Homo sapiens: one gene and its partners. The protein of the gene in region 1 purifies or fractionates together with the protein of each later gene. This does not show direct contact. Each region holds a gene or a part of one and is shown on either strand. Other genes may lie near its edges. The genes, in order: THAP8, EML3 and RAB14.

The links.
Region 2: the proteins of THAP8 (region 1) and EML3 purify together in Homo sapiens (affinity purification with mass spectrometry; one large-scale study listed by BioGRID and IntAct). This does not show direct contact.
Region 3: the proteins of THAP8 (region 1) and RAB14 purify together in Homo sapiens (affinity purification with mass spectrometry; one large-scale study listed by BioGRID and IntAct). This does not show direct contact.

Annotation. Positions count from the first base shown.
Region 1 is NC_000019.10:36,040,744-36,044,396, reverse strand, and holds part of THAP8 (THAP domain-containing protein 8), read left to right. Parts: intron 1-3,653.
Region 2 is NC_000011.10:62,602,776-62,606,428, forward strand, and holds part of EML3 (echinoderm microtubule-associated protein-like 3), read right to left. Parts: intron 3,440-3,653; coding exon 3,288-3,439; intron 3,206-3,287; coding exon 3,080-3,205; intron 2,999-3,079; coding exon 2,867-2,998; intron 2,406-2,866; coding exon 2,338-2,405; intron 1,427-2,337; coding exon 1,338-1,426; intron 1,267-1,337; coding exon 1,169-1,266; intron 1,042-1,168; coding exon 954-1,041; intron 473-953; coding exon 374-472; intron 115-373; coding exon 1-114. UniProt on the Homo sapiens protein: Regulates mitotic spindle assembly, microtubule (MT)-kinetochore attachment and chromosome separation via recruitment of HAUS augmin-like complex and TUBG1 to the existing MTs and promoting MT-based MT nucleation.
Region 3 is NC_000009.12:121,195,337-121,198,989, forward strand, and holds part of RAB14 (ras-related protein Rab-14), read right to left. Parts: intron 1-3,653.

The DNA of each region.
Region 1 (3,653 bases):
TGATTTTCCATTTTCAATTGTGATGTAAAGTTTCTCTTTTAAGTATCTTTGTTTAATAGTTAAAATTGGTTAGTTTTAAGAAAAATATGAAATAAGTAATATCACAGATATGGAAAACATTGTGAAGATGGGATATGCATGAGATGTGTCTTAGTTATCTAATGCTATATAACAAACTATCCCCAAATTTAGCAGCTTGAAATAAACATTTACAGTCTCAGTTTCTGGCAGCTGCTAAGGACAAACTGGCCAGCATTTGATCATGTGGCCACCCCTGGCTGCAAATAAGGCTGGAAAAGGAGGTCTTTATTATGGGTAGCCTTGAGCCCAGGTCTAAATAGAGAGTGGATTACCATCTAAGAGGGTAAGAGCAGATGCTGGGAATAAGTGGCACCCGGAAACCGGAGAAGTGGGGCACATTTAGAGGGTCCCTCATCAGATAATCCTCACCCACAACCACTGAGAAAGCTTTTATTTTTTAAAACTTAAAACAAAAAAAATTTTTTTTTGAGATGGAGTCTTGCTCTGTCGCCCAGGTTGTAGTGCAGTGGCGTGATCTCGACTCACTGCAACTTCCACCTCCCAGGTTCAAGTAATTCTTCTGCCTCAGCCTCCCGAGTAGCTGGGATTACAGGGACACGCCACCAGGCCTGGCTAATTTTTGTAATTTTCGTAGAGACGGGGTTTCACCATGTTGGCCAGGCTGGTCTTGAACTTGAATTCAAAATCACTTGAGGTCTGACTGCAAGTGATCCGCCCACCTCGGCCTCCCAAAGTGCTGGGATTACAGGCGTGAGCCACCGTGCCTGGCCTATTAAAATTATTTTTACCTGTGGCAAAATACACATAAAATCTACCATTTTGATCATTTTTAAGTGTACAATTTTGATCATTAAGTGTACAATTCACTAATGTTAAGTGTTGTATAACCAATCTCCAGAACTTTTTCCTCTCCTAAAACACTCTATCCCCATTGGACAATTCCCTCTTTCCCTCTCCCCCAGGCTCTTGGCAACCACCATTCCACTGTCTGTCTCTAGGAATTTGACTGTTCTACCTCATATAAGTGAAATCGTCAGTATTTGACTGGCTTATTTCACTTACCCTAATGGCCCTCAGAGTTCATCTGTGTTGTTGCATGTGTCAGATCAAGACTAAATAAAATTCCAGGCCAGATGCAGTGGCTCACACCTGTAATCCCAGCACTTTGGGAGGCCGAGGTGGGTGGATCACCTGAGGTCAGGAGTTTGACACCAGCCTGGCCAACATGGTGAAACCCCATCTCTACTAAAAATACAAAAATAGCCAGGTGCAGTGGCAGGCACCTGTAATCCCAGCTACTTGGGAAGCTGAGGCGGGAGAGTCGCTTGAACCCAGGGGGCGGAGGTTGCAGTGAGCCGAGATCACACCACTGCATTCCATCCTGGGCAACAGAGTGAGACTCCATCGCAAAAATAAATAAATAAGCCGGGCATGGTGGCGGGAGCCTGTAATCCCAGCTACCCAGGAGGCTGAGGCAGGAGAATCACTTGAACCCAGGAGGCAGAGATTGCAGTGTGCCGAGATTGCGCCATGGCACTCCAGCCTGGGTGACAGAGTGAGACTGCATCTCCTCCCTCCCCCCAAAAAAAAGACTAAATAAAATAAAATTCCATTGTATGTATATGCAGCATTTTTCTTATCCATGTATCTGTTGATAGACACTTCCACCTTTTGGCTGTTGTGATTTATGCTGCTATGTTTCTGTTGTCTGTTTGTTTGTTTTTGAGACAGCATGTCGCTCTTTTGCCCAGGCTAGAGTGCAGTAATGTGATCATGGCTCACTGTAGCCTTAACCTCCTGGGCTCAAGCAGTCCTCCCACCTCAGCCTCCTGAGTAGCTGTGCCTCTAGGCACATGCCACCATATCTGGCTAATTTTTCTATTTTTTGTAGAGACAAGATTTCACCTGTTGCTCAGGTTGGTCTTGAACACCTGGGCTCAAGTGACCCACCCACCTCAGCCTCCCAAAGTGCTGGGATTACAGGCATGAGCCACCACGCCAGGCCTGATTTATGTTGCTACGAACGCAGGTGTGCAAATATCTCTCCAAGACCCTGTTTTGTGTTCTTTTGGGTATGTAAGCAGAAGTGGATTGCTGGGTCATATGGTAATTCTATTTTTCAGTGTTTGAGGAACTGCCATATTGTTTTCCACAGTGGCAGCACCGTTTTACATTCCCAGCAGTGTACCAGAGTTCCAGCAGTTTTTCCACATCCTCACACACACTGTTCTTCTCTTCCTCTTCCTCCCCCTCTTACTCCCTCCCCCTTCCCCTTCCCCTCCTCCTCCATCACCCAGGCTGGAATGCAGTAGTGTGATCATAGCTCACTGCAGCGTTCAAATTCCTGAGCTTAAGCAATCCTCCCACATTGCCTCCTAAGTAGATAGAACTATAGATGCACATTGCCACACCCAGCTAATTTAAAAAATATTTTTTCGTAGAGACAAGGTCTTGCTACATTGCCCAGGATGGTCTTGGACTACTGCCTTCAGGAGATCCTCCTGCCTCAGCCTCCCAAAGTGCTGGGATTACAGACACAAGCCACCATGCCCGGCCTCTTTTTTGTTGTTGTTCAATAGTAGCTGTTCTGGTGTTTGTCAGATGATATTTCATCAGGGTTCTGATACTGCGTTTTCCTAATGATTGGAGATGTCAAGTATCTTTTCATGTGCTTATTGGCCATTTGTATGTCTTTGGAGAAATGTTTGTTCAAGTCCTTTGCCCATTTTTGAATCAGGTTATTTGTGTTTTATTGTTGTTGAGTTGTTTAAAGACTTGTTAGTGGGTGTTTTCAAGCATACACAAAAAGTAGAGCCCTCAGTATCCATCACTGTGTCACTAGTTATCAACACTTTGCCAATCTTCTTCCCTGCCCTGCCCACACCTCTAAGTTTTTGTCCTGCACTATTTTAAAGTAAATCCCAGACATCAGATCTTTTATCCGTAATTATTTCAGACTGATTTCTAACAGAAGACTGTTTCAGAAGTATAAACCAATACAGTTATCACACCTAGCAAAATGAATTTTTTTTTTTTTTTTTTAAAGACAGGGTCTGGCTCTGTCACCCAGGCTGGAGTACAGTTGCGCAATCTCGGCTCACTGCAACCTCTGCCTCCCAGGCTCAGGTGACCCTCCCACTTCAGCCTCCCGAGTAGCTGGGACTACAGGCATGTACCACCATACATGGCTAATTTTTTTTTTTTTTTGTAGAGTCGAGGTCTCCCTATGTTGCCCAGGCTGGTCTCGAACTCCTGGGCTCAAGCGATCCTCCCACCTTGTCGTCTTCCCAAAGTGCTAGGATTACAGGCATGAACCGCCATGCCTGACCAGTTTCTTACAATTATCTTATAACCAGTTCATGTTCAGTTTTCCCCAATTGTCTTAAAATGTCTTTTTACTGAATTGTTTGTTGTAGGCAAGGTCCACATCCTGCGTTTGTGCTGATGTTTCTTAAATCTCTCTTAATCCAGAAACCCCACACCCCCATTTATATGGTGTGGAAGAAACGTTTTCGCTTGGCTGCACGATCTCCCACATCGTAACTGTCTGATTTTATAAACTGCTCCAACAAGTTGATGTGGAAGAACAAATTGGGAGTGGAGGGGCGGGA
Region 2 (3,653 bases), on another chromosome or scaffold:
GGTACTGGAAGAGATGCACTTTGCAGAAGTCGTCGGCCACCGCCACCACGCGCTCGTTGTGGGAGCGGCACAGGGAGTTGATGTCGGTCCCATCGGAGCCGTCCGGCCAGACGCCTAGCACAGCGGCCGGCCTCAGCCCGACCTCCTACCCACCGCCACCCACGGCCCAGAGCTACACCATTTCAGGCGCTCCGGCAGCCGCGGCCACCCACTGCCGCGTTCCAGGCAAGCCTTCCCGGTCCCGAGGGGCCTCCTGGGCTGGATCTTCAGGTTTCTGGACTCTCACCCAACGACACACGCCCAGCGTTCCAAGCCCAAACTGGGCTCCACCTTGTCCCCCACCCTTCCAGCAGGTTTCCACGCCCCTGCTCACCGTAGACGTGAAAGCCCAGCACACAGGTGTAGGTAGCCCATTCCCGGTCTCGGCTCTCATAGCGATTCTTCAGCTGCTTGCAGCCTCCAGCCACGTCCCCTGGGGAGAGGGAGCCCGCCCAGCTCAGCTCTCACCCTGCCCTCAGTAGGGAAGATGCCAGGGAAAGCCAGACTGGAAAGACTGGCATGAAACCCGGCGATGGCATGTGATCTGGTCACCGTAGTAGCATCACCTCCTCCCCCTGTGAAACCCACCCTGTGTGCGTCCTGTCCTGAGCTCTGGCTGAAGTTCTAACAGCTTCCACGAGTTCCTCCTCCCTAGATAAGTCAAGTGCTCCACACTTGCCCTGAGAAACTTTTCCCAAACAATCTTTTCTTAGCGCATTTTTGAACTCCCTCAAGTCAACAAGACATGGTGTGAAACTAGTTGTTTCCAAATCACGAAATTTCTCCTACATATAATTCCAACTCCACTTTAACCCCATCTCCACTTCCTTATCTAACAACACCTCTAACAGCCCCCCCTACACAAAACCCACTCCAATTACCCTCTCCCCATGTCCTGCTCCACTGCCACTCACAGTAAAGAATCTCATAGTCCCCAGAATTGGACATGATGAAATTCCCATCCTTGGACCAGTCAAGATGAGTGATGAAGCTGGAGTGACCCTGGGAGCAAAGGTCAAGAGTTTTAAAGTATCCCATCCATTTCCCATCCCCAGAGCCCCCTTGATGCATCAGACCCCTGAGTTTCGCAGCTGTTATCATGCCCCACCACACACCCCAACTTCCTCACCATACAGCGGCCAAAGCGGCTGGATTTGGCACCATCACTGGAAACACTATAGATGTAGATCACGTTGTCATGGGAACCAATGGCCAGGTACAACCCATCTGCAAATACAGTCACTCAGAGAGGGAAGGGCCAGGGACGCATGTGAGTCCAGGGTTGGGGTGGCTCCCACCTGGGCTGTACCGGACCACTGAGAGCTGCTCATTGCCATCAATGACATCAGACACGATCTCTCTGGTCTCTGTGTCCAAAACCAACCACCTGGAAGGGAGGGAAGTGGAGGCAGATAGGAAGACGAAAAGGCAGGATGTAAGGAGACCCCCAGGGAGGCCACCCTGGGTAGGCTTGGGGATGGCAAATAAGAGAAGCTCAGAGACACACACAGAAAGGCTCTGATGTAGAAGACAGGTCACAACTGCATTCTTCTTTTTTAGTTTGTTGTTGTTGTTGTTGTTGTTTTGAGACAGAGTCTCACTCTGTCACCCAGGCTGGAGTGCAGTGGCAAGATCTCAACGCAACCTCCACCTCCTGGGTTCAAGTGATTCTCATGCCTCAGCCTCCTGAGTAGCTAGAATTACAGGTGCGTACCACCATGCCCGTCTAATTTTTGTATTTTTAGTGGAGACGAGGTTTCACCATGTTGGCCAGGCTGGTCTTGAACTCCTGACCTCAAGTGATCCACCCGCCTCAGCTCCCAAAGCGCTAGGATTACAGGCGTGAGCCACCGCACCTGGCCACCACTGCATTCTTATGCTGAGAAATGGGAAGGAGCTAAGTGTGGATAAAGGCTGAGGGGCTTCTGATGTCGTCTGAAAAAGTAATCTGAAACTACAGACCAGGGGCCGACTACAAAGGCACTGTGCAAGCTGGAAGCCTGTCACTTCCCTGTGTTTGTCTATGCCCCTCCCATTCCCACTGTTTCTCTATCCTGGGCTGCTGCCTCCTCCACTCCCAGGCTTGGAGGAGACACTGGGTTGGGGGAGGGGGAGAAACAGTTACCACAGAAGAGGAGGGGAGCCCGGGTGGCAGGGGCTGCAGGGAGAGGCACAGAGGAGTGCCAAGGCGCAGGTGGCTCCTGGGTAGAGGTGGTCACTCTCGCCCACTCCCCCAGTACCAGGAACCCTTCCCAGTCCTCCCTGCTTTCCCTCCTGGGAGTCCTGGCTCTCTCTCACCTCCCCGTGTTCAGTCCTACGGCCACAACTGCCCCACTCGGGTGGAAGTCAGCACAGAGACCAGTCTCCTGGGAGAGGGGAGAAGGTGAATTCAAGATGATGTCTTTCTAGTGAGGGAACCAGAGTGAACCCCTTGTCCTCCTAACTTCAAAGCCACTTACTCCCAAGGAGAAGATGGGAAGAGAGGGAAGGGATACCCGGGTATCACTGGAGCCTGAACAGGGAGTGATACCAAAATATTTAACCACAGAACTGATGCCAATAGCTGTGCTGGAGATTAACCATTTAGGTGCTGGATCAAGAGGAAGTCTGAGGGGTTCTGGGGGCGGCAGGGAGTGCCCAGGTGGTACTAGAAGCATCAGCTTTTACCAGTCAGTACAGAAAAATTAATATTTGAGTAGCCAGTGCAGCCATACCAGTACAAACTGGCCACCTCTGGGAGGCAGAAGGCAAGGTGCTGGGGAAGGCGTGGTGGCCACAGGTGTCCTGGTGGGTGTGGCATGGGGGATCCAGGGGCACAGGGCTCTACCTTGAGGTCGATGCTCCAGGCCAGTGCATGGCTCTCCCCATCCCACAGGCAGAGCTGCCGGTCGTGGCCGCAGGTGAGGAAGCGGTTCTGGGAGGGGTGTGTGCAGAGCCCCCAGAGCTCATCAGTGTGGCCCTGCAGCACAGCATGACTGTCACTCCTGCCCCTCTCTCACACCCCTTTGTCCCTTCCTCCCCTGAGCCCTTAACCCCCAACCTGGATTACAGGGGAGAAGCCCTGGGCCAGGTCTCCCCTCAGCAATGCATTCTTCGTGGTTCCCACCAGCAGCTCAGAGCCAAGCCCTTCAGCAATGGCTCGCACGGCCCCGAAGTGCTCGGGAATCTGCAGAGTGGTAGCAGAATGTCAAGAGCCCACTGACTATTGCTCTTCTCCCTCACTCCCTTGACCCCAGCCCAGCCCTCACCTCAGCCTCCTGGAGGGCCACCAACCCGGGCCCCCACTGTACCAGCCGGCGGTCCCGCCCGCCACCACTCAGCACTGTCCCGTCCCTCCGGAGACACAAGGCGAAGATAGAACCTTCATGAGCGTGAGCCTGGGCCACAATCCCATAGGTCTCTGTTGGCAAAGCCCCAGGTAGATCATGTTTTGGGGGTGCAGGGGAGTGAGAAACAGGGCCAGCTTGGCTGTCGCAATACAGTAAGAACTCCCAGCCATTGCATGCACTGACTACTATGTCTCATCCTCATACTGCCAACACATCTGTTATTCTCCCCATTTTACAAACAGGACAACTGAGACTCACAGAAATGAGGTAACTTCCTAAAGGCAA
Region 3 (3,653 bases), on another chromosome or scaffold:
CTTCTGTGCTCTTCTCCCTTGATTTTCCTAATTTCTTTCCCTCTTCTAACTAAAGGTTGTAGCTGTACATACTTTGCTCCTTCTATTTTATGTTAAAGCTATGACTTCTAACAATCCCAAATTTCTACTTCAAATGCTTTAAAGACTATCATAAAATTGTGACCCAATTTTAGTTGTACTAATTTGTGTACCTGCTAATTATCATACATTCATTAAATGTGAGATAACTAATTTTGAAAATGTATCTTAAAATTACAAACATTCATATAGTAGAAACTATTTCCAAATAAAAGAAATGATCACTATTTCGGATTTAATACCAGGGCTCTGTCTCACCACACCACACATTTTTCTTGCTCGTTTCTTTAAAAATTACAAATAAAAACCATAAAAGCAGAATTAAAGGAAAACTACTCAAACTTACTAATTTCAGTAAACAAAGGCAGAAAACATTTAACACTGTAGCCACCAACACTCACAACAGGTCTTCCCTTTCTTATTCTAAGAAGATACTGTCTAGATTTAAATATATTCCCATAGTTGACTGATATTAATACATTTCAGTCAAAAGTATTTGCAGTAGAATTATATTCAATACTAAATAGGCTTAATGTTGCTTTAACAAAAGATTTCTCAGTCTCATTTCTTGAACATGAAACATACTATTGTTAAGGTGAGGAATATATTTTTACCTAACTTTGGAAGGGAAAAAATTCTTCCCCTATTATTTAACAGTACTTTTGCTTTACTTAGAGAACTCTTGAGTCTAAAAAAAAGGACAGGAAATGCTGGTCTGGTTCAAACTCTGAAAACATGAGCCCACTTAACATTACAATCCCCATAAATGAAAAAAAAAATCCTGGTAATATTCTATAACTTGTATACAACTACCGGGACAATTAAAATTCACTTTATTCCACATTTTACAGAAAGTATTCGAATCAAGTTCATATGTAAGTAAAAGATCTTTATTGCCTTTAAAGGAAAAAAAGTACCACATATTTAGACAACAGGCATTTAACACATAATCAACAATTTGCAAACTAATAAGAAATACAATTGTGAGTTACTATTTATTGGGTACTTGACATATGCCGGGCAATGTGCTAAATATTTTACATACAATTTCATTTAATCCTTACTACTATCCTATAACATAGTTAATTATTATCCTCATTTTACAGATGAGGACACAGACTCAAGAGGTAACATGCCCAGGTCACACAGCCAAGTCTGTACTGAACCTAGGACTGTTTTAACTACAGAGATCCCCTCTTAACCACCACACCATCCTGCCCTCTCCACCGTCGTGCCTCCTCCACATGGTTATCAGCTGTACCATGTAGCTCTGCAGTATTCACTCGCTTAATTATAATTTAATATTCTGAATAAGATACATGAATTACATTCAGAGGATGCACTGCAGTCAGAATTTATAGATATAAATGACTGGTAATACTAGTAATACTAACTTATAATACTATAATTCATTTACTTAGAAAAAGTTTCTTGAGAACACTTGAGAGTAAACCATGTAATGATCTATACTACTTTTTATAATTCTTACTTAATTCTCACAACTCTGCAGAGTCATTATCATTATGTCCATGCAAAAAATTAAAGAAACTGAGGTTTGGAGAAATTCACTCATTTGGCCAATGTTATAAAGTTTGTAAATGGTAGACCTAGAACTTGAACCCAGGCCTGATTCCAAAGACCATGATTTTCTCTAAGGTATTATTAGCTTATTTCAGGTATGTACAGGTAGACTGATAAAATAAAAATCAGAGAAAGAGGAAGGATATTAGTGCATGTAAAATTTAGCTATAAACTACCCTTGCTGCCAAGAGAAATATTTACTAAATGCATAGTAAACACTAACAACTGTGCCATGTATTCAACTGACTCCTTAAAAATATTAATATGCTTAATATTGCTTTAATAAAGGATTTCTCAACCTCATCTCCTGAACATGAAACATACCAGTTTTCACCACTGGGGAAACATACCATTTCACCACTGTGAAAATATACCATTTTTCACCACCATTTTCACCACTGTTAAGGTGAAAAATGTATTTTAAAATGGGGTACGCCATCTTGTAAAATTCTGCATATTTCTTTTACTCAACAAAATGATAGACACATTTTCATGTCAGTACATTTAGATCTAAGTGGTTACTGAACAAATATTAAACACTAATTATTGTTGTGACAAAAATAGAATGCATGGTTTCTATTTACTGAATCAGACACCTTTCTAAGATTACACAGACATATAAACGACTAGTTTTGAAACATGTAGGTACAGATGTGAAGGTATACACTTTCATACATACTGCTTGTGGAAATGTGCCAACATTTTGGAAAGTAATCAGTATGTTTAAAAATCTTAACAATAATCCAAATCATCCTTTGGCCCAGAAAGTATCCTACATATACAAAAGCTTCAGCCCATAAGGCTACAGGTATTAGTGCATTTAATGCACCATTTTTACAGCAAAAAACTGGAAATAATCAGCAAAGAAATGACTGAATAAAGTACATCTATAATACAAAATAATATCCATGTAGTTTAGAAACCATTTTGATTGATATGCATTAACCTGGAAATACATCCATGATTTTGTTAAGTGAAAAAACACATGTTGCAGAGTTTTATGCAACAGCATACCCCACTTTCAAACACACACACACACACACACACACTCAACCCTATATTCATATAATATGGAATACACACCAAATTGTGAAAAATACATGGACAGGAGAAACAGGGAATAGAGAAATTATTAACTTTTCTTTATATATCCCTGCACTGACTTACTATAATGAATTAAAAATAAAATTTTCTCTACCGATAAATATTTCAAAAGCCCTTTTCTATTTTAATACAGGTTAAAGAATACCCAAACAAAAACAAACAAATCTCCCACTCATAATATTCCCAACATTATTTCCGCATTTACTGATAATAAGAGGAATATCTTATGAAGCCAATAATACGATTGGGTTCAAAATAGAAAAACCAACACTCAATAGTAGAGGGCATATTTTTGGGAGTTTTTTAATAGCTTAACTACTTACTGTTTGCTCTGATTTTAAAAACTGTTATACAGCTATTCTACTCCTTAGAACCTATGATGTTACTGTATAATTTTTACATAGCTGATCCAAGACATAACAAGGGAAAAGCAACCCATTAAATATTCCAGGTAATTTAATTCTTATCCTTGTTATTTCCACTGATAAGTTTTTTGTTTGTTTTTTAACATGCACGACGTTTTGTTAAAAATACCAGAGCTGAGATGGACTGCTTCTGTAGTTCCAACATAAACATATCTGTTAAGTATCTACTAAGCACAAAGCATTGTGCCAGGCTTTAGCAAGACAGCAATGATCAAAAAAGACAACACTGTCTCTGCCTTCGTGGAACTCAACAACAGAAGCATGCTGACTTGCTTTAGAGGCCCACTAAAATGGACCACTACTACCTGATTTGTCAGTCAGGCGGATAAAACTTCTGTAGTTAATCTAATAATCTAATCTAATAAAAATGAGTGGTCAATTTCCTCAACAGTAGTACAAGTAGCCCACCCACTTAAAAAAAAAACCTTACTTTTGACAATATACTTAATGTCACTTTTATATAAA